3 separate regions of the Homo sapiens genome follow, and all the other regions are linked to region 2. Evidence: fine-mapped expression QTL. A gene starts in region 2. Each other region holds a variant in brackets. All regions are shown on one strand. Distances are between the middles of the regions.

Region 1 (2,765 bases), 120 kb after region 2:
TAGATCCCAGATTTTAGATAATTCCTTTGTTATCTCTTTTATAAAAGTGTCACTTTGACCATACCCACAGTGGGACACATGGGTAGGATGAGGATATCTCTAATGCCCACCCTTTAGTAATTTTAAAAGCTAAAAGGTTAATGGCTTGCCTTTTGTCCACATAAAGATGTCCCTGTTACCACTTCAGAAGGGCCACATCGAAGTGTCATATTATATACAGACAGCCATTTAAGGCTAGGCTATAATTCACTCTCTAACCATCTTAACAGAGATCCAGCTCTTCCTGACCCTGCCCTGCTCAAGGGACAGGGTGGTAAAGTGGGCTGTGAGGTCAGACAGATCTGGAATCCTATCCTGGCTTTACCACTTACTAGTTACATGTGACCTGAGGCTAATTACTTTAGTTTTCTGAGCTTTAGCTTTCTAATTTGTAGGATGAAAATAATATAGTACCTCAAGGGCTGTTACAAAGAGTAAATGAGAATAGAAATAACTCACTTTTATATGGACTTTATATACATTAGCTCACTGGGTTTTCACAGCAGCCTTAAGAGAGAGGTTTTATTACTAATAATACTTGTGAAATGCGTAGAACAGCAGTTTCCAAACTTTCTGGTCTTTGTGCTTTATTTGTAATAACCAAAAACTATAAACAACTCAGGTGTCCATCAACAAAGAGGTGAACAAATAACAAAATTGTCGTATATCCATACAATGAAATATTAATACTACTCAAAAACAAGAAGAAATGCATTACTGATAGACAACAAAATGAATATAAAAATAATTATGCTGAGGAAGAGAAGCTAGACGAAAAAGAGTACATTGGGCCAGCCATGGTGACTCAGGCCTTTAATCTCAGTGCTTTAGGAGGCTGAGATGGGAGGATCGCTTGAGGCCAGGAGTTCAAGATGATCCTGGACAACATAGTGAGACCCCATCTCCACAAAAAAATTAAAAATTTGCCTGCCTGTAGTCCTAGCTACTCAGGAGGTTGAGGCAGGAGGCTCACTTGAGCCCAGGTACTTAAGGGTGCAGTGAGCTATGATCACACCACTGCACTTCAGCCTGAGTGACAGAGTGAGAACCTGTCTCTTAAAATAATAAAAAGTACCTTGTATATGATTCCATTTATATAAAATCCTAGAAAATGCATCCTAACCTATAGTGACAGAAAGCAAATCA[G/T]TGGTTGCCTAGGGACAAGGCAGGGTGGATAAGGAGGAAAGGAGGAAGGAATTGCAAAAGACAAGAAGAAACTTTTGGAGATGGTAGATATATTCATTATTTCATGGTAATGGTTTATTTGGATGTATACATGTGTTAAAATTCATCAAATTGTATTCTTTAAATATGTAAAGTTTATTTTATGTCAGTTACACATTAATAAAGCAGTGGTTCTTAAACATTTTCACTTCAAAACCCTTTTATACTATTAAAAATTAGTGATGACCCAAACGGGTTTATGTGGGTTATATCTATCAATTTTTACCATATTAGAAATTGAAACAGAAACTTTTAAAACATAATAAGCAAAATCAATTGTATTTCTATATACCAACAATGAATAACCAAAAATGAAATTGAGGCTGGGCGTGGTCTCTCATGCCTGTAATTCCAGCACTTTGGGAGACCAAGGTGAGAGGATTGCTTGAGCTCAGGAGTTCGAGACCAGCCTGGGCAACAAAGTGAAACCCTATCTCTACAAAAAATCAAAAAAATTAGCCAGGCATAGTGGTGCATGCCTGCAGTCCCAGCTACTCGGGAGACTGAAGCAGGAGAATTGCTTGAGCCCAGGAGGTCGAGGCTACAGTGAGCCATGTTCATGCCATTGCACTCCAGCCTAGGCAACAGAGTAAGACCCTGTCTGCCAAAAAAAAAAGGAAAGAAAAAAGAAAATTGAAAAAGGTCTAAATAAAATCAAAGACATCCCATATCTATGGATTAACAGACTTAATATTTTTACGATGGCAATATTCTCCACGTTGATCTACAGATTCAACACAATCCCTATCAAAATTCCTGCTGGCTTTGTGGAAATGGACAAGCTGATCTTAAAATTAGTATGGAAATTCAAGGCACATGGAATAGGCAAAACAACCTTGAAAAAGAACAGAGTCCCTAATTCCAAAGCTTACTACAATGCTACTGTAAGCAAAACAGTACTGGAATGAGGATAGAAATATAAATCAGTGGAATTGAATTGATAATCTCAAAATAAACCCATGTGTCTGTGGTCAACTAATTTTCAACAAGGATGCCAAGACTAATGAGGAAAGACTAGTCTTTTCTATAAATGGTGCTGGAACAACTAGGTATCCACATGCAAGTGATTGAAGTTGGACCCCTTCCTCAAACCATACACAAAAATTAACTTCAAATGGGTCACATATCTAAATGTAAAAACTAAAACTATAAAACTCTTCCTAGGAAGCAGAGGAGTAAATCTTCATGAGCTTGGATTAGACAATGATTCCTTAGGAAATGACACCAAAAGCACAAATAACAAAAGAAAAAAATTAGATTCATCAAAATTAAAAACTCTCACAGCCATTAAAAAAAAAAAAGAACAAAATCATGTTCTTTGCAGCAACGTGGATGCAGCTGGAGGCCATTATCCTAAGCGAATTAACACAAGAACAGAAAACCAAATACCACATGTTCTCTCTTATAAGTGGCAGCTAAGCATTGGGTATTCATAGACATAAAAAAGTCAACAAAAGAAACTAGGGACTACTAAAGGAAGGAGAAAGGGAGGAGGACAAAAG
Region 2 (2,765 bases):
CTCTGGGAATTCTCTAGAATCGTCTGCTTCCTAGTTCTCCTCTTTCCTTCTCCAGCCCTGTCTCGAGTGTTTTCTACCCCCCTCAGCTTTTCTAGTATCTAGTTCTCACAGTGCAGATATTAGAACTCTGATAATATCTACTCCTCCCAAACCTTTCCTTAGTTGTTGGCCCAATTCCCCTCAACTTTTCTCTCAGTCATTCCCCACTTCCCTCCACCTTCCCTGGCCGATTCTCCTCCACCTTTGTCACCGTTCTACTCCCTTTTCTAAGCCTCCTTTATTGTGGAAGTGATTCTCAGATCCCTTATGTTAGTCTCTCAGCTTCCCCAACCTTTGCCTCATTCCCCTCTCCCTTCAACAACGTTATTTTTCCTCCAATTTCTATTGACTTGGCGCCTCCCCTAGTACCCCAATCTGCCTTCTACTCCATCTAAATATCTCCAGGCCGCCAACATTTTCTCCTATCAGTAGACTCCTTTCCCGTGCCTCTATGAACGCCCAGAGATACCATTCTCCAACGGCTGGGGCCTGGCCCATAGGGAGAAGGGGTATGGGTCACGTACCCCATTCGCATCTTGGCTCCGCTCTGACTGCCCCCGCTGCCGGGTAGAGGTGGGCGAGAGGGAAGGCGGCCGAGGTGCATGCTCTTTTCGAGGGCCGACATCGAGGGGAGGCTGCACGCACGTAGTCAAACAGTAGGCGAAGCTTCGTCCCACGTTGAGTGTGGCCCAACCGGTCACGACTCGCTCCCCTAACGACGCCCTGTCGCCTTTGGACAGCACCCAGCTACCCGTAGCACCGCCTACCGCCCACCGGCTCCGTAAACTCCACCCACTCGCTTCAGCGCTTCCACCGGAAGTGCGCAACAGCACTCATACAAAGGAAGCTGGGTAACAGAGTATGAGAACTCCGCAGACTCCCGGCTGGGAACCCGACGACTTTCACCGGAAGGAGGAGCGCTCTTCAGGGCAATGCACCCTGCGCAATGGAGTCCACAAAGGGCGCATCCCTATGCGCTTGCGCAGCTGGAGGCGCCCCCCAGCCAACCCCGGAGAGGTATTGTAGCAAAGCGTCCTGGGTATTGTAGTGTATTGGAGGGAAGGCGTCTTGGCGCCTTCTCTTCGCACCGTTTTCCGGAGACTGTTAGAGGAAGAGTCGCTTTTTCCTGCCTCCCAGGCTGCCCAGCGGCGCCGGTTGCCGGGGAACGCAGGCGCCGTGGGGAGGGATGGCGGGAGGATACTGCTTAGGTGCTGGAGACGGAGTTGAGCTGGTGAAGAAGAGCTCGGGCTCATCATGAAACAACGAAAAGGCCAAGGGTCTGGGGGCAGCCGTGGGCGCAAAAAAAGAGGTAACCTGAGCGATCAAAGATTGAGGAAAGCGTAATAGGAGAGCAGGGTGTAAGGAATTTTAGGGAGACCCGCACCCCCGCTGGATAAACAAGAAAAGGGACGTAAGAAGGAAGTAGCCAGGGAACCAGAAGGTTAAAAGGAAGGGCAATTGGCCCTCCAGAGAATAGAAAGGAATTAGGGGCTGGGGTAGGGGCCACAGACAGGCGATTAATGAGATGAAGGTTACCGGTAGGATGACTGTAGAGGAGAAGAACAAACAATGATGGGATTGGTTTTGATAACGAAGTGAAATGTATGTGTGTGTGTAGCTTTCGAGGTCCACAGGGACAGGAAGAAACATAAATTGGCAAAGGGATTATATCATTTGTTGTGTGATTGTGGGCAAGAATCACGTTTTATACATTACTGAATGACCAAGGATTAGTACAAAGCAGGACTCGGTAAATGTTAGTTGAATGAATGAAGTATGAAGGGCTGACTATGAGCAGGAGTTGGGAAAAATAATTGTAGAGTATAGAGCCGGGAAGAGTGGGGAATGACAGGTGTGATAGGATTGGAGTGGGGGTAAGGGCATGACGATCTCCTGAAGGACCTGAGATCATGAAAGAGTGTGCAGCAGAGAGTCCTCATCAGGTTAGCAGCTCAAGGAGACACAAGCTCACCGAGTAGGGGATGTTAGCTGCAGTGAGAACAGTCAACCTAGGAACCCAGGGCAGATCAGGAAACTTGACATTGAATCTCTACAAGACTGCCTCGAAGGGAAAAAGGACAGTGGGTGACCCTGCCTTTTTGCATTGTAGGCAGTTTAGCGAGAAAAGAAGTATTGGGAACAGTGATAGGACATTAGGCCATTGGGTTGAGGACTGAAGCTACAATCTGGGAATTACTCTTATCCAAGCTGTTTAAAGATTACTAAGGCAGTTTTGAGATACTGACTTTCCTGCCAGGAAAGATAGGAGGATCTGAGACTGAAGCATACTAGTGCTCCCTGTGTCAAAACAGTTAAGCATGTTTGGTTGATAATCGGAAAGTCAAAGTAGAAATAATATAACATAGCATAGAACAGAATACACTTTTTGCTATACCATTTCCATATGTAGAAATGTATACACAACTGTGTATAATTTTTATGTTGAAACTATCCATAAGGATTATGGTGGGTCTTTTCTCCACTATAGAGGGCAGAGGCGGTGTTTGCATTAGAAGTCCAAATAATTAGTCCTGATCTGATACATTCCATATATTTTCTTCTTTGAGGCATAACCACTCCTCAAAGAAAAGTCAAAGGAAAAAAAAGGTATAAATAATATAGGAATGGTTTCTTAAATCTCCTTTAAGTTTTCCCGAAAAGGTACTATGAATGAAAGACAATCAGGGTCATTAAAGGAAAATTTTTTAGAAAGTCATGATTAATTG
Region 3 (2,765 bases), 380 kb before region 2:
ACTGATAAGATGACAAAGCAAGTGATCAATACTTGAGTAATGTACCAACTTGTTCTGAAATGAAATTGGCTGGGTGCATTATAATGATGTTTATTGGTGCAGGAATAAGATTTTTCAAAGGAAATAAATGAGCTGAGTTCTTTAGAATTCCACATATGCTTCACTTATTTAAAAATGAAAAAAAAAATCTGGCGATTAACAAGGTAATGAAATTTGATAATATTGGACCAAAAAGACAATAACTGTGTTAGAGTCAGTGAAGAAAAACAAAATTCACACTTAGGACTGACCCACCAAGTTGAAATGCTGTGTGAAGTTATTAACTGCTTCCTTAAGTAATGTGTCTAATAGTGCTTGGGGCTAGATTATCAGGCTGAAAGGGTAGATTAATCCACTGCCCCCCACTAGTGCTATGCTCTAGAAATGTCTTTCTCCAAGAGTCCTAGTACCTCTGAGATTCCTTACTTCTTTTTTGAAACGGAGTCTCACTCTGTAGCCCAGGCTGGAGTGCAGTGGTGTGTTCTCAGCTCACTGCAACCTCTGCCTCCAGGGCTCAAGCAATTCCCCTGCCTCAGCCTCCCAAGTAGCTGGGATTACAGGCGCCCCCCCACGGTGCCTGGCTAATTTTTGTATTTTTAGTAAAGACGGTTTTGCCATGTTGGCCAGGCTGGTCTCGAACTCCTGACCTCAGGCCTCCCAAAGTGTTGTGATTACAGGTGTGAGCCACCGCGCCTGGCTGATTTTCCTTACCTCTGCCACTGGCCCTGCCTGAACACTCTTCTCATAACTTGTCTGAATACTTCTCAGCCTACACAGCCTAGCTTAAGCACCAGCATCTAGTGAAGTCTCTGGTGCATGAAATATTAGCATGTGTGAACTATCCTCTCTGCTGAATGGACAGAGCTGATTTTAACAATCTCTGACTATCTGTACCCCACCTCCTATAGCCTGTAATTACAGTCACCCGCAGGAACACCTCTCCATCACCTGGGAAGAATAAACACAATGCCTAGATCAACTGGGAGGGTGTGTGAATGCAGATCAGTCCCAGGAAACATTTGACCAATTGCATTTTCTCTCTCTCTGCCTCTCTTTGGTCTCCCTCCCTCTTCTCCCTAACCATTTTCTTGGTCTCTTTAAACTTCTACCTCCTTGTAGAACTCCCTCATCATGGAAGAGGAAGCACGAGATCTTTGAAAAGCTACACATCATTTGGAGACTCTTGCGTCCTTCAGCTCCTGCAGAATGAAACATCACATGACAAACCAAATCTTCTTTTAAAATATTAACTACTGGTCGGGTGTGGTGGCTCACGCCTGTAATCCCAGCACTTTGGGAGGCTGAGGCGGGCAGATCACCTGAGGTCAGAAGTTCAAGACCAGCCTGGCCAACATAGAGAAACCCCGTCCCTACTAAAAATACAAAAATTAGCCAGGCATGGTGGTGCATACTTGTAATCCCAGCTACTTGGGAGGCTGAGGCATAAGAATCACTTGAACCCAGGAGGCAGAAGTTGCAGTGAGCTGAGATGGCATGACTTCACTCCAGCCTGGGTGAAAGAGTGAAACTCCATTTCGTTTTTTTGTTTTGTTTTGAGACGGAGTCTCGCTCTGTCACCCAGGCTGGAGTGCAGTGGCACCATCTCGGCTCACTGCAAGCGCCGCCTCCCAGGTTCACACCATTCTCCTGCCTCAGCCTTCCGAGTAGCTGGGACTACAGGCACCCGCCACCA[C/A]ACCCGGCTAATTTTTTGCATTTTTAGTAGAGATAGGGTTTCACCGTGTTAACCAGGATGGTCTCAATTTCCTGACCTCCTGATCCACCCACGTTGGCCTCCCAAAGTGCTGGGATTACAGGCGTGAACCACCGCGCCAGGCTGTGAAACTCTATTTCTAAATAAATAAATAAGTAAATACCTACCACCCAAAACACAACTTCTTCATTGTGTCACTGTGCAAACAAAGTCTCTGTCTCCTTACTCCTTTCCAAAGACCACACTTCCTTGTTGAGACAAGAGAGAAAACCCAGATTTGCCCCTGTAGTAGGTTGACTAGTAGCCGCTAAAGATGTTAGATCCCAATCCTTGAAACCTGTAAATGTTATTTTATATGGAAACAGTGTCTTTGCAGGTGTAATTAAGTTAAGGATCTTGCAGTGAGGAGATTATCCTGGGTGGGCCCTAAATGTAATCACACGCATTACATATGACCTTGGCCTGACACCTTAATTTTGGCTGAGTGAAAATGATTTCAGATTTCTGACCAACAGAACCGTGTGAGAATAAATTTCTGGGTTTTTTGTTTGTTTGTTTTTAAAGAGATCAGGTCTTTCTCTGTCACACAGGCTGGAGTGCAGTGGTGCAATAATAGCTCACTGCAGCCTCAAACTCCACGGCTCAAGGGATCCTTCCACCTCAGCCTCTCAAGTAGTTAGGGCTACAGAGGTGCATCACCATGCTCAGGTAATTTTATTTTATTTTATTTATTTATTATTTTTTTTGCAGAGATGAAGGTCTCATTATGTTGTGCAGGCTGGTCTCAAACCCCTGGCCTCAAGCAATTCTCCTGCCTCTGCCTCCCAAAGCTCTGGGATTATGGGCATGAGCCACTGTGGCCCGGCCCATGACTTAACTCTAGTTGTAGTCCTTGTGGTTAGCAACAGAGGTGGGGCAGATCCAGAGGTGTATGGTAAGAACACCTGACAGCAATAACTTAAGCTTACCCTGAGAATGACCCTGTATGGCAAACACACCTGAATGTGTGTTCTGA

Which allele goes with the higher level. Positions count from the first base shown, and alleles are read on the strand shown. Sizes are in standard deviations (SD) of each study's normalised expression. Not every link is listed here.
In carriers of allele C in region 3, the expression in lung of the gene that starts at base 1,084 in region 2 tends to be lower than with A alone (small effect, 0.37 SD a copy in GTEx).

What was found. PIP is the estimated chance that this variant, and not a neighbour inherited with it, causes the effect.
Region 1: its variant is fine-mapped to the expression of C2CD3 in whole blood (TOPMed, PIP above 0.99).
Region 3: its variant is fine-mapped to the expression of C2CD3 in lung (GTEx, PIP 0.93).

Annotation. Positions count from the first base shown.
Region 1 is chr11:74,044,692-74,047,456 of GRCh38, reverse strand. All of the region lies in intron 28 of C2CD3 (C2 domain containing 3 centriole elongation regulator), which reads left to right. Among named protein-coding and RNA genes, the nearest start is that of UCP3, 37 kb to the right of the region's middle. The variant G/T (reference allele first, on the strand shown) is at 1,186.
Region 2 is chr11:74,169,321-74,172,085 of GRCh38, reverse strand. C2CD3 (C2 domain containing 3 centriole elongation regulator) reads left to right here and starts at 1,084. Exons shown (of 33, transcript NM_001286577.2): 1 at 1,084-1,348. The coding sequence starts at 1,294. PPME1 (protein phosphatase methylesterase 1) reads right to left here and starts at 797. Exons shown (of 14, transcript NM_016147.3): 1 at 564-797. The coding sequence starts at 664. RefSeq lists enhancers at 3-925, 703-1,152, 926-1,849.
Region 3 is chr11:74,546,896-74,549,660 of GRCh38, reverse strand. No RefSeq gene overlaps it. Among named protein-coding and RNA genes, the nearest start is that of POLD3, 44 kb to the left of the region's middle. The variant C/A (reference allele first, on the strand shown) is at 1,733.